Homo sapiens: one gene and its partners. The protein of the gene in region 2 purifies or fractionates together with the protein of the main gene of each other region. This does not show direct contact. Each region holds a gene or a part of one and is shown on either strand. Other genes may lie near its edges.

Region 1 (3,603 bases), on a different chromosome or scaffold from region 2:
ACTCCAGCCTGGGTAACAGAGTGGGTGACCCTGTCTCAAAGCAACAAAAAAACAAGCAGACAAACAAAACCCAGAAAAACAAAAAAACATGTAAACCATATTTGTTTAGCTTGCGGGAGGGAGGCTGAATTTGGCCTGTGGCTGTAGTTTGTTGAACCTTGAACCTTGCAGTGGATGAGCACTGAGGAGTGAGACTGAGTTTTTGACTTGGTGCATCTGGCAGCACTGCATGGAGGAGGTGGAACTAGAACTGGTCCCTGATGGGTCGGGATGTAGTCGTAGTGGCAAACTTGTGTAATCTTCACTTTGTGCTTTTCATGTACTGACTCACTGAATGCAATATCCCCAGACGCTAGGTAGTTTTATTACCCTAGTTCCATATGTGAGGGAACAGAGGCACGAGGCTCACTAGCTCATCTGACGTCCTGTGTGCATATGGGGACAGAATGGAAACCTGGCATTTAACCTCAGAGTCCACACTTGCAACCACGGCTCTTTGGTATGGGTGGGGGTGCAAGGAAGCAGCAAGGTTTCTGTAGATGATGAATTGCCGGTGGGATAGGTGGGTTGGGGCTGGGGTTGGGCAGGAGAGGGCAATGCCTCGATGCAGGCTTTATTTTATGTTCACTCCAGGGAGGAGGTTTTTAGAGGATGTCACGACTAGGGTTGAGTGTCAGTTAATCTACCTGTCTCTGCTCTGAAGAGTGCTTTCTGTCATGGATTGACATTATTTAATGGCCAGCATGGTAGACTTAGATGGTAGGGTTGTAATTTCTAACGTGAGCCCTGACACTAATTTAGTAGACGGTAGTCAAAAGGTGTGTTGGGATGTGTGTGTGTCCATGTGCACACACGTGTGTAATTGGAGTAATTGATTTTCATTTATTTTTATTTTTTTTGAGACAGAATCTCACTCTGTTGCCCAGGCTGCAGTGCAGTGGTTTGATCACGGATCACTGCAGCCTCAGCCTCCTGGGCTCAAGCCATCCTCCCACCTCAGCCTCCTGAGTATCTGGAACTACAGTTGTGCACCACCGCGCCTGGCTAATTTTTGTATTTTTTGCAGAGATAAGGTTTGGCCATGTTGCCTAGGCTGATCTTGAATTCCTGGACTCAAGTAGTCTGCCCACCTTGGCCTCCCAAAGTGCTAGGATTACAGGCATGAGCCACTGAGCTGGGCTGGAGTAATTGAATTTTATTTTCTTATTTTTCTTTTTCTTTTTTTTTTTTAGAGTCAGGGTATTGCTATGTTGGCCAGGTTGGTCTTGAACTCTTGGCCTCAGGCAGTCCTCCTGCCGCGGTCTCCCAAGGTGCTAGGATTACAGGTGTGAGCCACTGCACCCAGATGGAGTAATTGAATTTTAAACTCTGGGCATATACTGAACCTGTGCACTACTTTGTTTCATTTGTGAGCTCAATTATAGAAAAACCAAAGTTGTTCACAAGGGAATCTTTCACAAGCTATCTCTTTATTTGCTCTTTCTCTATTTAGGAGCAGATGGAAAAGTTGAAGCAAAAGGCATCAAAGGTGATCAAGGCTCAAGAGGATCCCCAGGAAAACATGGCCCCAAGGGGCTTGCAGGGCCCATGGGAGAGAAGGGCCTCCGAGGAGAGACTGGGCCTCAGGGGCAGAAGGGGAATAAGGGTGACGTGGGTCCCACTGGTCCTGAGGGGCCAAGGGGCAACATTGGGCCTTTGGGCCCAACTGGTTTACCGGGCCCCATGGGCCCTATTGGAAAGCCTGGTCCCAAAGGAGAAGCTGGACCCACGGGGCCCCAGGGTGAGCCAGGAGTCCGGGGAATAAGAGGCTGGAAAGGAGATCGAGGAGAGAAAGGGAAAATCGGTGAGACTCTAGTCTTGCCAAAAAGTGCTTTCACTGTGGGGCTCACGGTGCTGAGCAAGTTTCCTTCTTCAGATATGCCCATTAAATTTGATAAGATCCTGTATAACGAATTCAACCATTATGATACAGCAGCGGGGAAATTCACGTGCCACATTGCTGGGGTCTATTACTTCACCTACCACATCACTGTTTTCTCCAGAAATGTTCAGGTGTCTTTGGTCAAAAATGGAGTAAAAATACTGCACACCAAAGATGCTTACATGAGCTCTGAGGACCAGGCCTCTGGCGGCATTGTCCTGCAGCTGAAGCTCGGGGATGAGGTGTGGCTGCAGGTGACAGGAGGAGAGAGGTTCAATGGCTTGTTTGCTGATGAGGACGATGACACAACTTTCACAGGGTTCCTTCTGTTCAGCAGCCCGTGACAGAGGAGAGTTTAAAAATCCGCCACACCATCCATCAGAATCAGCTTGGGATGAACTTATTCAGATGGTTTTACTTTATTAATTCCTCCAATTATTACAATAATCATAAAAAGGTGAAAATGGAAAAGTTATTCCCAAAACTGATTCTGTGTAACTTACTATTTTTCCAGGAGTAAATATTTAAAATAGCTGCATGGTTTATTCTAATTTATTTCACATTTCTTATTCCTATTATCTGAAGAATCCCTCGTCTGTGCGTTTCTTGTGGGAAGAGTGTTTTAATATCATTTTAGTGCTCTGAGGAGTCATATGAAGATGTATCCCTCATCTGTGTTTCTGAGGACATTAAGGGGAAATTAGAGGGAAATGTTTATTCAATTTAGTACTAGCAACAGCTTTAAGCTGGTGATGCTGTCATACTCCAGAAAGCTGTAGACACTGCTCATTTTGTCTTTTAAAAAAATTTTATTTTATTTTAAGTTCTGGGATACATATGCAAAACATGCATGTTTGTTACATAGGTAAACATGTGCTGTGGTGGTTTGCTGTATCTATCAACCCATCACCTAGGTATTAAGCCCTGCATGCATTAGCTATTTGTCCTGGTGCTCTCCCTCCCACTTTGCTCATTTTCTAACCTAGGTTTTAATCACCATTTTACCCAACAAATCATTGTTCGATCATTATTTGCCAGACTTGAATCTCTATGTGTTTTCTAGGACTGCTCTAATAAAGTACACAAACTGGGAGTCTTTAAACAACAGAAATGGACTTTCTCACAGTTCTGTAGGCTGGAAGTTTGAGATCACCGTAGCAGCAGGGCCATTCTCCCTCCAAAGGGGATACAGGAGGATGCAGCCTTGCTGCTTCCAGCTTCTGGCAGCTGGTGGCAGCATCACTCCAGTCCCCGCCTCCATCTTCAGGTGGCTGTCCTCCTTCTGTATCAGCCAAATTTTCCTCTTCTTACAAGGACAGCTTCCCTAATCTACTATGACCCATCTTAATCATATCTGCAGCTCCTTATTTTCAAATAAGGTCACATGTACAGGTTAGGACTTCAGCATCTCTTTTGGGAGACACAGTTCAACACAAAACAATCTGCCCTCTGATTCCCAAAGTTGATTTCCTTCACCTGTGCAAAATACATTTTCGCCCCATCTCAACATTTCCAAAAGTCTTAACACTTTCCGCGTCGAGCTTTCCTGAGCCCCTCTGGTGCAGCCACCTGCCTGTCCCATACACCCCGCCCACCATGGAGTCCAGAGGGAAATGAGCCAGCAGCCCCAAACCAGACACCAAGGCGCCCAAAGCCACCACCAAGGCCAAGGTACTTCTGGC
Region 2 (3,651 bases):
CAACAACGTGGTCTGTCCTTGCAGTGGAACAGTCCTCAGCCATATAAAAAGGAAGCACTGAGAGCCTCCAGCCTGGGGGACCTTGGGGACACTGTGCCAAGAGGAGTTGGTCAGACACAAAAGGTCGCACACAGTTATGAGTCACCTATGTGACGTCTATGAATAGCCAAGTTCAGAGACAGCAGAATGGTGGGTGCCGGGGCTGGGGGAGCGGGGCAGCTGGGAGTCAGGGTTTGAAGGGGACAGAGCAAGTTGTGGAGATGATGGTGCTGACGGTTGCAGGGCAGTGTCACCAGCGCCTGGGGGAAGAGGGAAGGCGTGCAGCGTCCCTACCCTCCAGCCAGGCCAGCCCCAGGCAGTGCTAGAGCAAGGGCGTGTACACATCAAGGCCAGTGGCAACTCGTGAGTCAAGCCACAGCAGCCACCCTGTTCTTTAAGCTGGGGAGTCGGGACCTGGCTGGGGACGCCACCTTAACACAGCGCCCACCGAGACTGTCAGCCACGGGCCATCCTCCAGGACTGTGGGGAAGGCTGGGGCTTGGGCCGTGGAGGCAGGGAGGGGACTGGCCCCCATCCCCGTCCCCTGAAGGGCCTGCGCTGCAGCAGCAAGTGCACTGGTTAGAGGAGGACGCCCCAGACTGATGTTTCAAACTCTCTGTAGTTTTACCGTATTAATAATAAAGTCGAGGCCAGGCGCGGTGGCTCATGACTGTCATCCCAGCACTGTGGGAGGCCGAGGCGGGCAGATCACGAGGTCAGGAGATCGAGACCGTCCTGGCTAACACGGTGAAACCCCGTCTCTGTTAAAAACACAAAAAATTAGCCGGGCATGGTGGCGGGCGCCTGTAGTCCCAGCTACTCAGGAGGCTGAGGCAGGAGAATGGCGTGAACCCGGGAGGCGGAGCTGGCACTGAGCCGAGATCGCGCCACTGCACTCCAGCCTGGGCGACACAGCACTCCAGCCTGGGCGACACAGCGACACTCGGCTCTAATAATAATAATAATAATAATAATAAAGTCGAAATACACACGAGGTGCTGGGTGACTGTTCCCTGGGAATCTGGCCAGCCCAGGAGCCAGATGCCACACTGGGGCCACCCTCAGCCTGGCCCCCGCCCCCGGAGGGCAGAGGCTAATGCCACTGAGACCTCTGGGGTGCTGGCCCGGCCTGGCCTTCTGTTCCCTGACATTCCACTCACCCCTGGGGCTGTCCCCTCCCAAGACAGATGGAGACCAAGATGGCCAGGCTGCCCTGCTCAGGGGACAGGGGCTGTGGATATAGAAAGGTCCTGGTCCTTCCTTGTCAAATACCATCTGGGTGGCCCCTACTCCCAGGCTCACCCACTGTCCTCCCAGCCTGACCGCTGGGGGCTCTACCTCAGCCCTGTCACACCTGCTGTCCCACAGCCTGGGGTGCTTGGGCTTGGTCCCTCCAGTCTGGCCCTAGGGCCCTGCCCAACAGGCACATAGGGAAGCCTTTGGAGCCATCCCAGAGACCCTGATGTGTCCCTCACCCATCTGCCACTCAGACTCCTGCCCGCAGACCGCCACCCGCACACTCCCGCCCGCAGACCCCCGCCCGCACACTCTCGCCCGCACACTCCCGCCCGCAGACCCCCGCCCGCAGATTCCCGCTCTCACACTCCCGCTGGGAGGGTGGCTGGTCAAGCTCCTGTGTCCTGGGAACTCACGTTCCCAGGCTTGCCCCAGGCAGACACTGCTTGGAGACACCCCAGGAGGGGCGTGGGCGCCGGGCTTAGCTCTGCACCTGCAGGGCCATCCGTCTAAACAGGACTGTGTGAGGGCAGCGGGGCCTGGCCTGGCTCCCCAGCTGGGAGGAGGCCTCTGCCTGGGTGCTGTCCACAGCTTCAGTGGACTCCTACTGGCTGAGGTGCAGCCTCCCGCAGGGGATGGTACCACAAGCCCCCAACTGGCAGTGCCCAGTACCCCAGGTCCTCTGCTGCTGGCCCACACCAGAACCCCGGCCACGGCCCCTCCCCTCCGCCTGGCCCTCAGGTTTCAGCAGCCTGTCCTCCTGAGACAGGTGGGGGCTGGCCCCTCCACGCCTCTTGGGCCAGACACAGCCATACCTGAGCGGGAGTCTCTACCCCCAAATACCACCACCCCCAAATGCCACCACCCCTGCCGGGAGGCTTCTCCTCTGCTCCTGCTTCACCCGCACGTCCCCTGCAGGCTCCGTGTTCACGGCCTGCATGGCCAGGACACTCGCCGGTGCCCTTGGCTCCCGCGGGCCCAGGTGGCCTTACTGCCAGCTGTCCCTGCACCCGAGGCCACAGCTCAAGGCCCATCAGCTTGGCTGAGCCTGGACTCCGTTTCCCCTCTGCCCCGGTCAGGCTTCGGTGGGCAGCACTCCCCCTAGGGCTGCGTCTCTTGGTGACAATCCCTTCTCAAGGGTGGTCCTCCCTCCCACGCTGCTCCCTGGCCCGGCCCCACACCTGGTCCCAGTACCCTCCCAACCTCCACAACCCCCACACGCCACCAAGAACTTCACCGGGGACCTCACCCTCACCCTCCGGCCTCACGCACCCCCTGGTGAGTCCTGTGCCCACCGTGACCCTCTCCAAGCACCAGGGACTGCCTGGCAGACCCAGCCCGGCCCCAGCCGAAAGCAAGCTCCCAGCCTGACCCCTGCAACTCACATGCTGGGAGCCGCACTTGCCATGGCTTCTCTAGCCAGGATCCCGGGGCCACTCTACTCCTCCCCCGCCCCCTCCCCAGATCCAGGACCCTGCCAAGGCCCCAGAGTCCTGCCCAGCTGGCCGCTCCCTCCCACCGCCACCGAGGCAGAGCTCCCTCCTGGACAGTGTGCTGGGCTATGCTGGACTCTGCTGGGCGCTGGCAGGACCACCACACTGACCGTGCCCCATTCCCTCTCCATGCCACAGCGGGACACTGTCTCCAAATCACAGACCTACCAACCTCTGCTCCTCCTGCTGTCAAGGGACGAGGCTCCCGACTCATCTGGTGGAGGCCATGGAGCTGCCCACTGCCCAGCCCAGCCCCACCAGCCTCGGCCCTGGCAAGCCCACCCCTTCCTTCTCCTTGGCAGACACTCTTCTGCGGGGACCTTCTGAGCCCTAGGCCACAATCACCACGCCCCTGAGTTTCTCAGCCTGATTATCTTTCTGCTCAGCTCATTCCACAGACCACACTCTCCTACCCACTGCACACAATCCGCCTCACACGTTGATGTTGAAGGAGCGCTACATCAAAGACAGAAAAAACAAGTAGAATATCCACACCCGACCCCACAGACGCAGGAGAGGATCCACACCCGACCCCACAGACGCGGGAGACGATCCACACCCGACCCCACAGACGCGGGAGACCATCCACACCCGACCCCGCAGAGGCGGGAGACCATCCACACCCGACCCCGCAGACGCGGGAGACCATCCACACCCGACCCCGCAGACGCGGCAGACCATCCACACCCGACCCCGCACATGCGGGAGACGATCCACGCCCCACCCCGCAGATGCGGGGGAGTATCCAGGCCCCACCCCACAGACGCGGGGGACTTTCCACGCCCGGCCCCACCCCACAGACGTGGGAGACAATCCACGCCCGGCCCTACAGACGCGGGGGAGTATCCACGCCCAGCCCTACAGACGCGGGGGACTATCCACG
Region 3 (3,651 bases), on a different chromosome or scaffold from region 2:
CAGGATTCATCTACCACAAGCAATATAACAAAATTCTAATACAGCAGTTTATTTGGGTTGGAAATAGCTTTTGGGCTTTTACTATAAGCATACTTCATAGCACGTAGTTTTGTGGTATAAATTCCAGTATTGGACTAGTGCAGTTCTTTTTTGCATAAGCATGTTTCAAGGGCATTAAAAATATAAGCCTTAATAATACCTCCTTTCCTGTTTTTTCAAAGCCTAAAATTATGTGTGTATACATATATGCTTTCATAAATATGCACATATATACATATACGTACATGCATACATGTGTGTGATAATGTCTCTCTCTCTCTCTCTCTCTCTCTCTATATATATATATATGAAAACTTTCAGTGCTTTATGGAGATATACATTTAAGCAGTTAAGGCCTAAGACCACTAAAATATTACCCAGCATGTACTTCAGTTTGTCACCACTTATTGTCACCCAAAAAAGATAGATTCCTAAGAGAAATAAGGACCAGAAGAAGTGAATTTTTACCAAGGTGACAGCGACAGAAAAAGATTAGAACATGACCTGCTTGAGGGCAGTGAAGTCTGTGGTTCTGATCCATTAGAGCCAGTGTATCAGTGAACAAATGGGATGGTCCTACTTAAAAGAAGTAAAGATAGATAGGTAGGGGCATGAAAAATAATCCACGCCTACATAAAAATCTTGGTTATCTAGCTCTATGGCTCTCATAATGGCAAGTGACACACCTACAGAATATTTTAGGTAGGACTGGGTATGTTCAGGGTTGTCACAAATTATTGGTGGTGGTAGTGGTGGTGTGCTATTGGCTTTTAGTGTATATGGGGGAGGCAGCCCAATTTAATGAAGAGTTTTTCTAAAAATATTCCATATAAAGTTTATGTGTCCTATTTAGCTAAATGTTATGCATATCAAACTGTATAACCTGGTACATAATTACAATTAAGAATTTTATTTACATTCCCACCAAAAGCCGAGCAATTTACAAAAATAGTTTAGTTATTTCATGTACTCTATCTTCTAACTCTAGAACTGATAGACTATAATGTTGATAGAAATTAAACTTAAGACCAACTCAGCACCAAATCAGTAATTTTTATTTTCAAGTATTTTACTTATTGACAATACGGTGAGTAACCTTCATCTCTTGAAATAGAATTAACATTAGTTAACAACATGGAAATGTTCCAGAAAGTACTTTTGGGATTTTAGTGGAAGTATATCAATGGTATTTACTCTCTCATTTGCAAAATATCATACTTTAAAATTTTCTCCACTCCAAGAGTCTACATTTGACTTGGCAAATTTTCCCTATACCATTAACTTTCTTCTTCCGGTTTTCATCTACAAATAAGTCTGGGTTGTTAGTATCTCAACACTAGTTTAAGTCTACCCTCATTCTTTCACTTTCGTGCACTTCTTGCACGGGATGTCTTCTAATGTTTTATTTGTCTTAAATTCAAATTTATTCATCATATATTCATACAAGCGCTGACTTTACTATGTGTCTAGTGAAGTTATCCCTGAGCGTTAGTAGTGAAATACACATTACTTTTATTTTATTAGTTTTTAAAAATTACAACTATATTCTGTAATTATTTATAAATGACTTTTGAGGATAATAAGGGGGTAACAAAATATTTGTTTTTAAAAAAGAGGACAGAGTCTGAGAGGGTCAAGGATCACAGTCTGGTCCACGATGACTACTCAATGCATGAAAGAAGACAGCAAATCACAAGCCTTCTACATTTACCTCTGTACTGCTTCATTCTGTGACTATCACATATTAGTTGATACCGTGATGGCCAGAAAGAGTTAACTCCCCTACCTAACTAATCTAACTTTCTAAGAGGTAGCTGGATGAGGAGTCAGGAGACCAGGTTTCTAGTTTCTGCTCTGCCACTACCAGTGTGGCCTTTAGCAGTTCATCATGATCACTGTAGGTCCCCATTATTTCTGCAACTGTAAAATGAGGACACAGGAATAAATTACTTTTAAGATTCTTTCCAGCTCTATTAAAAAATGCATAATCTTGATCCTAAGACTTAGGCATTGATAAGAAGAAACGGATTCCTTTAATAAGTGTATATAAAATTTATCCTGTGGGTCTCAATTATATTTCCAACCACAATATTTCTTTTAAAATATTCAGTCTAGTCAAGTCTTTAAAAAATGTCATGCCTTACAAAAAATGAAAATGTTTCCTTAAAAAAAAAGCATCCCTACACTTTATGTAGTGAGCACATTTATGATGAGAACATAGTCTCTATTCTGAAGGGTACATCTACTTTTCTATCACCATTCTCCTTACTTCCATAAAAGTTACAGTTTGGCTGTGAATATTTGAAATAAAAATGATCTTATCTGCTTTTCCCATCATATATTTTTGGCAGTTCTAACCTTCCACACAGAGGTTTTCTAAATTCTAACAGTCCACAGAACTAACAATTCAACAAAATCTATGTCCAACTAAAAACTGACTATAAACAAGATATTTCATGCTATGGTATGAATCAGCTTCTTGCTGAAGTAACTCATCTACAACCCATTTTGCCCTAGAGCTTTTGAAAAACACAATAGAAATCTGTTAAATTGGCAGTCTTGCTGAACTTCAACTATTTTATCTAGCTTGGTCCACTGTAACAATAATTGAGAGGTTCTCTTTGATGAAATGTGTTTTTGATTTGGAGCATAGGTACAGAGATGAAATGGACCAAACCCCTTATTTAGATGGCTTCTTGCTATTCCTTCTCTTGGAAAGGACATATTAATATATAAGGCCTAGGAATGCCATTTAACGTCAAAGACATACATATGCTTTAGGAAAACACTTAAAAATGCAGTGTATTAATAGTAAGATGCATACATTAACACATTCTTATTTGATTTTCAGGAGCAACCTATTATCACTTCTTAAAATATATTAACCACCTCTGTTACATGTAAAGTGGGATTGAATTTCTCAAACTTTGACTATAAGACTTTTATTTTTGCTGGGAACATATCTAATCCTTAACACATATTCATTAAACAGGCATACAATCAAGTCTTGCTTATCTTTCTTTGAATTACATATGATTTCCTGCAAAGTTTTCATACCAGGTTTGCTCACTTCTGCCACCCAGCTCATTTCTGGGCAGTCTGCCCATCTTCCCCACCTCCCCACAAATGGGTTTTCGTGTTTGAGGCATGAAAACTCATTTAAAAATTAACCTAAACACAAGAAAATAATTAGAAAGGCAACTTGCCCACAATAACAATGAAAATCTTTTTTAAACCAAACATGCAATACATTCCAAAGACAAACACAAATGACTTTTTAAATAACCATGATTTTACATTATCTTTGCCTCTATTTTTCTCATTAACATGAATAATTCAGAGTATTTACTATACATGGTGAAACTGTTTCTCCTCAATAATTCATTTTTAGGATACAGAAAAATAAGATGTAACATGTTCTTATGTAATATCCAAAGGTTTTAATTAGACTATATTTTTAAAGGCAACTTTACTTTCAAAATTATCTGTAGTTTGGGTTTATTCTGTCCAAAGCCATTCTTCTAAGTTAGGAGAATCTTAACGCTTTCAGGGAAAAGAGCAGTATAGAACACTGTAGCTGGTGATAATGGCCCACTTTTTCTTGGTTCCTGA

Evidence for each region.
Region 1: the proteins of GNPTG (region 2) and C1QTNF9 purify together in Homo sapiens (co-immunoprecipitation; one large-scale study listed by IntAct). This does not show direct contact.
Region 3: the proteins of GNPTG (region 2) and CHST9 purify together in Homo sapiens (co-immunoprecipitation; one large-scale study listed by IntAct). This does not show direct contact.

The regions. Positions count from the first base shown.
Region 1 is NC_000013.11:24,319,504-24,323,106, forward strand, and holds the end of C1QTNF9 (complement C1q and tumor necrosis factor-related protein 9A precursor), read left to right. Parts: intron 1-1,492; coding exon 1,493-2,265; 3' UTR 2,266-3,028; downstream 3,029-3,603. UniProt on the Homo sapiens protein: Probable adipokine. Activates AMPK, AKT, and p44/42 MAPK signaling pathways.
Region 2 is NC_000016.10:1,354,849-1,358,499, reverse strand, and holds part of GNPTG (N-acetylglucosamine-1-phosphotransferase subunit gamma precursor), read right to left. Parts: intron 1-3,651. UniProt on the Homo sapiens protein: Non-catalytic subunit of the N-acetylglucosamine-1-phosphotransferase complex, an enzyme that catalyzes the formation of mannose 6-phosphate (M6P) markers on high mannose type oligosaccharides in the Golgi apparatus.
Region 3 is NC_000018.10:27,178,772-27,182,422, forward strand, and holds part of CHST9 (carbohydrate sulfotransferase 9), read right to left. Parts: intron 1-3,651. UniProt on the Homo sapiens protein: Catalyzes the transfer of sulfate to position 4 of non-reducing N-acetylgalactosamine (GalNAc) residues in both N-glycans and O-glycans.